2 separate regions of the Homo sapiens genome follow, and region 1 is linked to region 2. The links come from fine-mapping of genetic effects on gene expression. A gene starts in region 2. The other region holds a variant in brackets. All regions are shown on one strand. Distances are from middle to middle.

Region 1 (5,365 bases), 21 kb after region 2:
GGGAGAGGAGAAGTCACAGGCCATTGATCCCAACTGTCATCCCCTAGGGAGACCATATCCCACACCCCAGGGCCTGGGCCATGCCTCTTTTCCTCCTTCACCCTGGAGTCCTGGGAAGTTGATTTGAGAAGATGCTAGGAACACAATGAAAGCCAATTCATCCGATCCAGTTTTCAAGGGTTATTTATTAAACCCCTTGGTTCTGACCCCAAGCTAAGTGGGACTCAGCATCAGACCCTGCACTCAGAGAGCCCCCTGACTTGGGGAAGACAGAGTCAGAGAAAGGCAGCCCCAGTGTGGCCAGGGCTCAGCTGGAAGGAAGGACAAGGGGCTGGGAGAACCCAGAGTTCAAGAGATCTGGGAAACAGGGAACGGCATTCCAGACGGAGGGCACACCTTGGGCATGGGTAAGGAAAGCCCATCGTGTGTTCTAGGAAGCATGGATGGATGAAACGGGGTCCCAGCCGCTATGGACAGCCCCGAGTTTCACCTGTAAAAGGCAGGATTATTTGTTTTTAATTTTAATTTTAATTTTTTTGAGACAGTCTTGCTCTGTCGCCCAGGCTAGAGTGCAGTGGCACGATCTTGGCTCACCGCAAGCTCCGCCTCCCAAGTTCACGCCATTCTCCTGCCTCAGCCTCCCGAGTTGCTGGGACTACAGGTGCCCACCACCACGCCTGGCTAATTTTTTATATTTTTAGTAGAGACAGGGTTTCACCATGTTAGCCAAGATGGTCTCGATCTCCTGACCTCGTGATCCGCCCACCTGGGCCTCCCAAAGTGCTGGGATTACAGGCGTGAGCCCCCGCACCCGGCCAAAGGCAGGATTATTTGTTAAGCGGGTTGCAGTGTTCTACCAGACCCCCCACCCTCAACCCAAGCCCCTGGTCTCACTGGGACTTGGCCACTGCCAGGAGCGTCTGGCCCTTCACGGCTTCAGGCCCAGCACAGCGCGTGTCATTCTGGGAAAACATCTTGTCTTTTTGGGCCTGAAGCCAACGATAGAGGTCGCTCAGGTTCTGGTCACAGATCCAGGGGTTGCCGGAGATGTCGAAGCCATCCCGCATGTCCCAGTTTGGCTGCCCTAGGGATGCCCAGAGCCCCTCGGGCACGCTGGCCAGTGAGTTATTGGAGAGGTCCAGCATGTCCAGCTGCCGCAGGCCCTGGAAGGCACCGGCTGCCACCCTGGCCAGCTTGTTGCCGTTCAGGAAGAGGTAGCGCAGGTCCGGCTGCGGCAAGAGGAGATCTTTTCCCAGTACTTGCAATTTGTTGCCTTCTAGATGTAGCCGTTCTAATTGCAGCGGACCCCTCAGGAGGTCAGGTGGCAAGGTCTCCAACTGGTTCTCCCCAAGGTCAAGGGTGCGCAGGAGGGTGAAGTTGGCCAGCAGCCCGGGGGGCAGTTTCCGGAGGCGGTTCCCAGACAGGTCCAGATGCCCCAGAGCTTTCAGGCCGTGTAGCCACGAGACCTCCAGGACCTCCAGCTGGTTTTCTTTCAATACCAGGGTGTCCAGGGTGGCTGAGGCCTGGAAGAGGCCCGGGGGCAGCCCGGTCAGGGCGTTTCGGGTTAGATCCAGCACCCTCAGCTGCGGCACTGGCCGCAGGAATTCGGGCGAGAGGCTTTCCAGCCCATTGCTGGAGAGGTGCAATTCTTGGAGCTTAGAGGCGCCCTGGAGGAGGTTGGCTGGCAGGTGGGTCAGGTTGAAGAATTCCACGGCCAGGTGCACGGTGTCGGCTGGCAGGTAGCCGGGGATTTCGGCAGGTGGTTGACAGGAGATGGAGCTGCCATGGTCTGAGCGGAACACCTGGCAGTCTTTGGGGCTCAGGGTGACCCCCCAGGCTGAGGCTGCCAACAGCAGCAGCAGGAACAGAGTTCTAGAAACATGGGGTTGAATGCCCCCTGGGCTGCAGGCAGTAACAGAAGATGCTTACTAAACCACAGTGAAAATACACTCAGCTAGGTGAAAATACACCAGCAAATCCGCCCACTTCTTCCCATCTCTGCGGCTACCAGCCTGGACTATGCTACCTCATCTCTCACCTGTACTAGGGCAGTTGCTTCCTCCTCCTCTTCCAGCTTCTACCCTCACCCCCGACAGCTGCCAGAAGTGGCCCCTGTTCCAGGGAGAATTATAATTCTAGGAAAGTTGAGTTTCTGAGTGTAACTCCCGCATAATATGAATACACTTCCCCATCACCAGCCTAGCCCCCATGAGCTGTTAATTATTCACAGTCCAACTTGCTAGTTTCTTCTGATCTGGCTTATTTTCTGGGTCAGTCCTTGTCTCCCTGGCTCTGTGTTTTGATGTGAACTCCTATTCATCCTTCAAAGCCCCAGCTCCAATGCCCTCTTTTCCATGAAGACTTCTCTGCTCT[G/A]GGATCCTGGTCTTTTTGTCCACTCTTGACCAATTGGGTGCTTGGAGGAAGACAGACGTTCAGGTTCATGTTTTTGAGACAGAGTCTTGCTCAGTTGCCCAGGCTGGAGGGAACTGGCATGATCACAGCTCACTGCAGCCTCTGAACATGAAAAGTGTGTCCTGCTTTGGCCAGGTCTGAGGGTGGGCATTTGGCCTTGGGAAGCGGTGGTTTACACTTAGCACCACAACCCTTGGAAGCCTGGGGCTTCCCCTCCTCCTCCAGGGCTTCCCTGGCCCGGCAGCCATCAGACATGATCTCGACAGCCTTGGTCACTGTGGCCCCAGGCCTCTAACAAGAAGCCTCCCCCGGCTCCCTGCTGCCCATGCCCACCTGGGCTTCTGTAGGGGTGTGTGTGTGTGTGCACGCGCCAGTCTTTCTGTCACAGATAAGGTTGATCTGTGCCAGCCACCAGGCCTGTATCTGCTCCCTGTGACTTCTATGGGTTAGCTGGAATGTCCTGTATCTCCGCATGGTCTGGCGTTCAAACCTGCCTAGGACAGGTAGTGTGGGGACCTACCTTTTTGGTCGCTGTCTGCTCCAAGAGGACATGGTAGCTCTGCTCTTTTGCTTCTGGGTTGTCCTGGCCTGCGGAGGTGGCCTTATACCTGCCTGGACTGGGGGCAGGGGAACCAACCCTGGGGAAGTCCCCACCCCCGTCCAGTTCCTGATAGGGGCTGAGCCTAAGCCAGGCAGGGGAAGGGGAGGGGTCAGGATTACAAAATTGCTTCCTGGAAATTGTTTCCTGTTCAACCCCTTTTTGACCCTGCTTCTAGAACACAGGTTTTTCTTTCCTTGCTTCCTGATTTTTGGGGGGCATCCAAGAGTCTCTCTAGTTGCATCCTCACTTCCCCCAACCCGGAGTTCAAGGGTCAAGGTTTGCAAGGCACTATTCCTGGAGACAGGGACAGCTCTCTGAGCAAGAGGAGGGATTTACCATAAACTTGAGCAACCCAGAAGCTCACTGAAAAGAACAAAAAAACTCGTCTTGATTTCATGGTATGTTGATATTGCTTTTTTTAAAAGAAGTCATTTTAAAAATACAGTCCAATAGTGAGTAATGCCAAACGTCTCTACGGTCCTTAGACAGTGGCTTGGGAGGAACCAAACCTGGTTCTGAATTCCAGCTCTGTCATGAACACCTTTGCTTTGTGACCTTTGGCAAGTGACTTAACTTTTCTTGGCCTCAGTTTCCCCATCTATGAAGCTGAACTCAAATCTCCAAGGGCTCCTTCTGCCCTTTTTTCTCTTCATCTGAATCTGACATCCATGCTATTGTTTCCATTCTTCCTCATTTCCTATTAAATGCGTTTGGAGGCTACAAATTTCCCTTTGAGAACAGCTTTGGCTGCATCTCATGGACTTGGCTGCAGAGTGCTTGCATTCTTGTTGAGTTCTAAATATTTAGGTATGATGGTGTCACCTTTATCTGCAGCTATGACTATTTTTTTTTTCTTTTTTTTTTTGAGACAGAGTCTTGCACTGTTGCCTAGGCTGGAGTGCAGTGGCGTGATCTCCACTCACTGCAAGCTCCGCCTCCCGGGTTCACGCCATTCTCCCACCTCAGCCTCCCGAGTAGCTGGGACTACAGGCATGCACCAGCGTGCCTGGTTAATTTTTATATTTTTAATAGAGACAGGATTTTGCCATGTGGCCCAGGCTGGTCTTGAACTCCTGAGCTCATGTGATCCACTGGCCTCGGCCTCCTAAACTGCTAAAATTACAGGTGTGAGCCACCATGCCCCGTCATTTTTTTTTTTTTTTGAGACAGCATTTTGCTCTGTTACCCAGCTTGGAGCAGTGTGGTGCAATCATAGCTAACTGTAGCTTTGACCATGGGTCCAAGGCCTCCCAAGTAGCTGGGACTACGGGCACGTGCCACCATGCCTGGCTAATTTTTTTTGAGATGGAGTCTCCCTCTGCCACCCATGCTGGAGTGCAGTGATGCAATTTCGGCTCACTGCAAGCTCCACCTCCTGGGTTCAAACGATTCTCCTGCCTCAGCCTCCCGAGTAGCTGGGAATACAGGCACATGCTACCATGCCTGGCTAATTTAAAAAATTCTTTTGTATGTTACCTAGGCTGGTCTCAAACTCCTGGGCTCAAGGAATCTTCTCAGTCTCTCAAAGTGCTGGGGTTATAGACGTGAGCCACTGCACTCCGTCAGTCTTGTGCCCTGCCCAGTCTCCGGAGCCCAGCCGTTAGTTGGTCTTAATCAACATGGACTGAGAGGAAGGAAGGCTTGTGAAATGTAGTGACACAGTAACAAAACGATCCATTAAAATGAAATGAGATCACATCCCTGCTTAAAACTCTCTGATGGCTTCTTGTCCCACTTAAAACAAAATTCATAAGGCTGGCCAGGCGCAGTGGCTCACGCCTGTAATCCCAGCATTTTGGGAGGCCGAGGCAAGCGGATCACCTGAGTTCAGGAGTTCGAGACCAGCCTGACCAATATGATGAAACCCCGTCTGTACTAAAAATACAAAAATTAGCGGGGCGTGGTGGCGGGTGCCTGTAGTCCCAGCTACTGGAGAGGCTGAGACAGGAGAATTGCTTGCACCCAGGAGGCATAGGTTGCAGTGAGCCGAGATCGCGCCACTATACTCCAGCCTGGGTGACAAAGTGAGACTCTGTCTCAAAAAAAGAAAAAGAAAAAGAAAAAGAAACTGGCTCCTATGCAGATGAAGATGGGGACCCCGAAGTCTCCATGTTTCCACACTCAGCTCCCCAGATTTGTTTTGACCCAGCCTTTTTTTTTTTTTTTTTTTTGAGACAGCGTCTCGCTCTGTCACCCAGGCTGTAGTGCAGTGGTGTGATCTCAGCTCACTGCAACCTCTGACTCTCAGATTCAAGCTATTCTTCTGCCTCAGTCGGCCGAGTAGCTGGAATTACAGGAACCCGCCACCAAGCCTGGCTGATTTTTTGTATTTTTAGTAGAGACGGGGTTTTG
Region 2 (5,365 bases):
CAGGAGGTTGAGGCAGGAGAATCGCTTGAACCTGGGAGGCAGAGGTTGCAGTGAACTGAGATTGTGCCACTGCACTCCAGCCTGGGTGAAACAGCAAAACTGCATCTCAAAAAATAAAAGTAGAAGAAATAAAGTGCTTACGCTGCTGTCGCTTTGGTCTCATCTTGCCAGGCACAGCCCTGTGTAGACTGGAACCTTACGTGATTAGAGTGGGGTAGCACTGCACCCATTTCACAGATGTGGAAATAGAGGCTCAGAGGGGAAGCTCCGCCTGGGATCCCCAGGCTGTCTGCCTTCCCTCAGGCCCACAGCAGCCCCCCAGATAGCAGGAACTGAAATGTCCCAGGAGGGAGCAGCCCCCCAGATAGCAGGAACTGAAATGTCGCAGGAGGGGGCACCCCCAGGGCTCCTGCCACATCAGACCCTGCCCTGCACATCCTCTCACCTTTTCCGAAGGTTGCAGCTCCTTCTCCGTCCATGGGGCCGTCTGCTCTGGGTGGGCAGCCACTGTGGGGACAGGGGCCGGTCAGGGAGAGTGAGGGATGCAGTTAGAACCATCTACCCGGCTGCCCATTGCACAATAGCCAGGCACAGCCTAAAAGGTCAGGAATGTTTCAGCTACCCCGCCAGGGACAGCAGGAGGTGACATCCACGGCTACCAGCCAGACCTGGTCACCCCCCAACCCCGCTGGGGGCTCCCCCCAAGCCCAGGGCCGCTGTTCCCTGAAGTAGGGCTCTGTGGAACTTCCTCTGCTGGGTGGACACCCACCCTGAGTCCCGGGGTTCATATAGCCTGGCATGGGGGAACAGCCCCTTGCCCAGCCCGCCCCGCCCCCACCGCAGCTGCCTGCTGCCTATTGCCAGGCCAAGGCATGTGGAGCAGAAGTCAGCTGCCTGGGGCTCTGGGCCCAGAGGGAGGCCCAGCTCAGGCGGCTGCCCCAACCCTGGGTTCCCTGTCACCGTCCCTGATCGCCCAAGCTGAGCCACAGGAGGCTGGGGAGCCCCTGGGCTGTGTGACCCCAGGGGAGCTGTTGCTCCTCCCTGGGAGTCTGGATCTCACTCTGATGAGCTCAGATGGGCAGAGCACCCAGCCTGGGCCATGGTGCATCAGAAACGGAGTGCAGGGTGGGGGAACGGCCGAGGGACTGAGTGGGGGGGCATTGCAGGGAGACAGGCTGGGTTGAAAGCCACCTTCGGCCACTCACCCCCCATATTTATGCCTCAGTTTCCCCATCCACCACAAGATGTCCTAGTGTCTGATGAGAGCACACAGACAAATATGGAGGACTCCCCAAATGGCTGGAAGTCCCTGCCCGGGGAGCTCCTTCTCCCAGGTCCATGTGTAGAGTCCCCCCACGCCCCCAGCTGGGCCAGCCACTCACCCTGAGCCTGTGGTTGGGCAGCCTCGGCAGCAGGCGCTCCTGTGGGGTCAGCGGCCGGCCGGGCTCTCGCCGAGCTATGTGCGTTGGCCACCAGGTTCCGGGCAGAGCTGAAGCCAGGCAGGGACCCAAAGAAGCTGCCCAGGGTCTGCATGGGGGCGGGGGGTGTGCAGGATGAGCAGGCCAAGCCTCGGCAGGAACGGGTCAGAGGAAGCATCGATTGATCAGCCCAATGCCGCCCCGGCCCCTTGCTCCTGGGTGACCTCAGGAAAGTGTTTCAGCCACTCAGCCTCAATTTCCACACCTGGGCAATGGGCAGACTCAGCCTGCCTCCCATGCACAGAGGAAAAGATCGTCTACCCGATCTCCAAAGACCTTTTCCTTCCAGGATCCCCACTGCACAGATGGGGAAACTGAGGCTCAGAGAGGGGCGGAGCTGAGGCCGGCCCAAGGTCACTTGCTGGGGAAGGTGTCGAGGTCTGCGTGGGTCCCCCGCCTCCAGCTTGGGTCAGAAAGGAAGGGATTGGCATCATGGCTCCCAGACCGCCCCCACCAGCCCACCAGGGAAGCACCTCTCCAGATTCGAGACCCCAGGACTGTGGAGGTCACCTTCCCCGGCTCTGGGGCATCTCCAGGCCCCAGCAAGAATCTGCCCCATTTCCCCTCTTTACCTTGCCCTTCGGTTTGGGGGGATCCCGTCTCCCTTCGTCTGGAGCAGACATAGTGAGAACGTGAGAAGCTGGAAGGGGGCAGAGAAGGTGCGTGAATGGGGGTTCCCTAGCCTCCCATCCCACACCCACTCCCCACTGAAAGCCTGAGCAGCCCGACACCCACCTGCAGGCCTGGCCTCACCCTGGTGTCACCGAAGCAGACGCGGCCCCGCTCACCTGGACTGCGCGGGGTCCCCTGGAGGACGGACCGGCCCGGCTGGCAGCTGGCTCTACCCTCAGCTCCCTGGCCTTATAGGGTCCGGGGCAGGCGCAGGCCCAGCCAGCAGCGGCAGGCGGCCAATGGGCCCGGGGGAGGTGGCCTGGACGGTCACATGGCTACCTGCCCAGCCCAGCATGGGCCCAGGCCCAGCACCTTTCCCCTGTTTCCTGCCCACAGCTTGCATCAGGCTGAGTGGCTCACAGGCCAGATGGGCTCCCCTCCCGGGCCCCTGAGCCTCCAGTTCCATCCACGAGGTGGGTGTAGTTCAAATCTCTGCTGCACCAGGATGCCTTGGCCAGTTACCATCTTTTTGCTTCAGGTTTCTCTCTCGTACTCCGCACCACGTCCCGTAACATCCAGCTTCTTCTCTGCTCTCATCTCCCCCAGCTTCCTCCTTCGCTTGCTTCATCCCAGCCACACAGGCCTCCTCGCTATGCCTCCAGCGCACCTGGCACGGTCCTGCCTTAGGGCCTCTGCACGGGCTGTGCCCTCTGCCTGGAACACCTTCCCTGCAGGTTCCCACAGGGCACCCTCTTCCGCCCACAGAACAGTGCCTGGCATACATTTGGCGCTTAATACACGTTTGGCTCAATGGAGCAACACAGAGAGTGGTTGTGAGCCTCTGTGAGATGAGGTCATGCACTGAACAAATGCTGCCTTCGCGTTACCCAGGCAGAAGCGGGGTCTCGGGGTCTCGGCAAGGAGCAGGGGGTGTCCTCAGTGTGGAGGGGAGCCCATCACTCTCCGGAAGGGACTTGGGCCAAAACGCAGACCAAGATGGAGCACCAGCCAAGCTGGGGGCACCCTAGGAGTGGAAACCCAGCCTGGGGGGCTTGGGCCAACCCAGGGAGGCTCCCTGGAGGAGGCGTCCTGTTCCAGAAGTGGTGAGGATGGGATTCAAACCCAGACCCTCCTGTTCCAGGAAGTGGTGAGGACGGGATTCAAACCCAGACCCAGGACCTTCGTGCTGAGCCCAGCCTATGTGCTGGGCTGTCTGTGGGTGGGTGGGCAGAGGAATGGCCGTAACGCCCACCCTGGGCTGTGTCCCCCTCCTACCTGCCCCTGAGACAGGGTTCCTAGCCCTGTGTTATTGGGGGTGAGAGGGCAGACCCCATGGGTGGCTCTGGGCACTGGGCTGGGAGGAGGGAGGGTACAGCCACAGGATCTGATGATTCCCAGGCCGTCTGTCTCCTTGGAGCCGACACTGTGTTTGCCAAACAGTGGGGGAACAGAAGGGGGGGTGTCCCCCAACCTCTTCTACCAGCCAGTGCTTCCCAAGGGTGGCTGGGAGAGCTCTGGGTGCCCCTCCCCTTCCCAAAGGGCAGCCACAGCCCAGTGTGTGGAGAGAAAAAATTAAAAAGTGATCATAAACATCCCAGCCAGGATCTACCCCTCCTCTGCCCAGCACCCTCCATGGCTCCCACCTTCTCCGGGGTGGGAGCCCAGGGTCAAAGCCCAAGTCCCCTTCCTGCAGCCCGGTAGGCCCTGCATAACCTGCCTCGTCTGCTCCCCACCTTCCTCTCCTTCTTCTCTTCACTCTGCTCCAGCCACACGGGCCTTTTCACTGTTCCCATAACATGCCAGGACAGAGTCCCTCAAAGACACACGTGACTGTGCCTGCTTAGCCCCGCACACCCTTCCTCAGGGCTTTCGTGTGGGTTGTTGCTTTTGCCTCCAGCACCCTTTCCCACATCCCTCACCTCCTTCCAGGTCTTTCCTCAAATATCACTTCCTCAAAGAGGCATTCCTGGATCTCCTCTCCCTTTAAAAAATATATACCTCAGGCCAGGTGCCATGGCTCACCCTGTAACCCCAGCATTTAGGGAGACCGAGGCAGGAGGATTGGCTTGAGCACAGGAGTTTGAGACCAGCCTGGGCGACAGAGCGCCACCCCGCCTCAAAAGAACAAAAGAAAAAAAAAAAAAAATAAATAAAAAAAATATATTTTATATATATATATTTCTGTTGAGGCGGGGTCGCGCTCTGTCGCCCAGGCTGGAGTACAGTGGTGCGATCTCGGCTCACTGCAAGCTCTGCCTCCCGGGTTCATGCCATTCTCCTGCCTCAGCCTCCCGAGTAGCTGGGACTACAGGCACTCGCCACCACACCCAGCTAATTTTTTGTATTTTTAGTAGAGACAGGGTTTCACTGTGCTAGGCAGGATGGTCTCGATCTCCTGACCTCGTGATCCACCTGCCTCGGCCTCCCAAAGCGCTGGGGTTACAGGCATGAGCCACTGTGCCCGGCTGCCCAAAATATATCTTTAAATAAAAATTAAATGAATTAATGGGCCAGGCGCGGTGACTCATGCCTGTAATCCCAGCATCTTGGGAGGCCGAGGCAGGTGGATCACCTGAGGTCAGGGTTCGAGACCAGCCTGGCCAACATGGCAAAACCCTATCTCTACTAAAAATACAAAAATCAGCTGTGTGTGGTGGCGCACGCCTGTAATCCCAGCTACTCGGGAGGCTGAGGCAGGAGAATCACTTGAACCTGGGAGGTGGAGGTTGCAGTGAGCCAAGATCGCGCCACTGCACTCCAGCCTGGGTGACAGAGTGAGACTCCTTCCCCACCCCCCCAAAGAAAAGAAAAGAAAAGAAAAATCCCAGGGCTTAGCTCAACCCATTCTCTTTTCCTCACCTCTGCTGCAGTGAAACTGATTTCCCTACTGCTGTGCCTTTCCCTAAGCTGTTCCCTCTGCCAAAATGCCTACCCCTATGTGCTGTTCTGATCATCCTCAACAGGCCTGGCCCTGCCAGGAGCCCCCAGCCTCATGTGGGAAGAGAGAGCAAGGCTGCCTGTGGCTATAAAGTCAAGGTGGAAAGGGCAAGAAACCTTGAGAAGGTGGCCTGTGGAGGACCGGAGGAGGGAAGTATCCGGCTGGGATGGAGTCCTGGAAGCCTTCCTGGAGGAGGAGGCATTGAGGCTGGGCCTTGAGGATGTATGAGATGTGTCCGAGGGACGGATGGGGGGTGGGAAGAGTATTCCAAGGTGGCCGCACAGCCTCAGCAAAGGCCCGGAGGTGGGAATGTGCCCACTTCAATGGTAAGAGAGCA

The links. PIP is the estimated chance that this variant, and not a neighbour inherited with it, causes the effect.
Region 1: its variant is fine-mapped to the expression of PLIN4 in whole blood (TOPMed, PIP above 0.99).

What each region holds. Positions count from the first base shown.
Region 1 is chr19:4,537,050-4,542,414 of GRCh38, forward strand. LRG1 (leucine rich alpha-2-glycoprotein 1) reads right to left here and starts at 2,987. Exons shown (of 2, transcript NM_052972.3): 1 at 2,933-2,987; 2 at 1-1,902. The coding sequence starts at 2,964. The coding sequence ends at 891. The variant G/A (reference allele first, on the strand shown) is at 2,374.
Region 2 is chr19:4,516,172-4,521,536 of GRCh38, forward strand. It overlaps PLIN4 (perilipin 4), which reads right to left and starts at 2,315. Exons shown (of 8, transcript NM_001367868.2): 1 at 2,214-2,315; 2 at 2,051-2,118; 3 at 1,383-1,527; 4 at 446-507. The coding sequence starts at 2,101.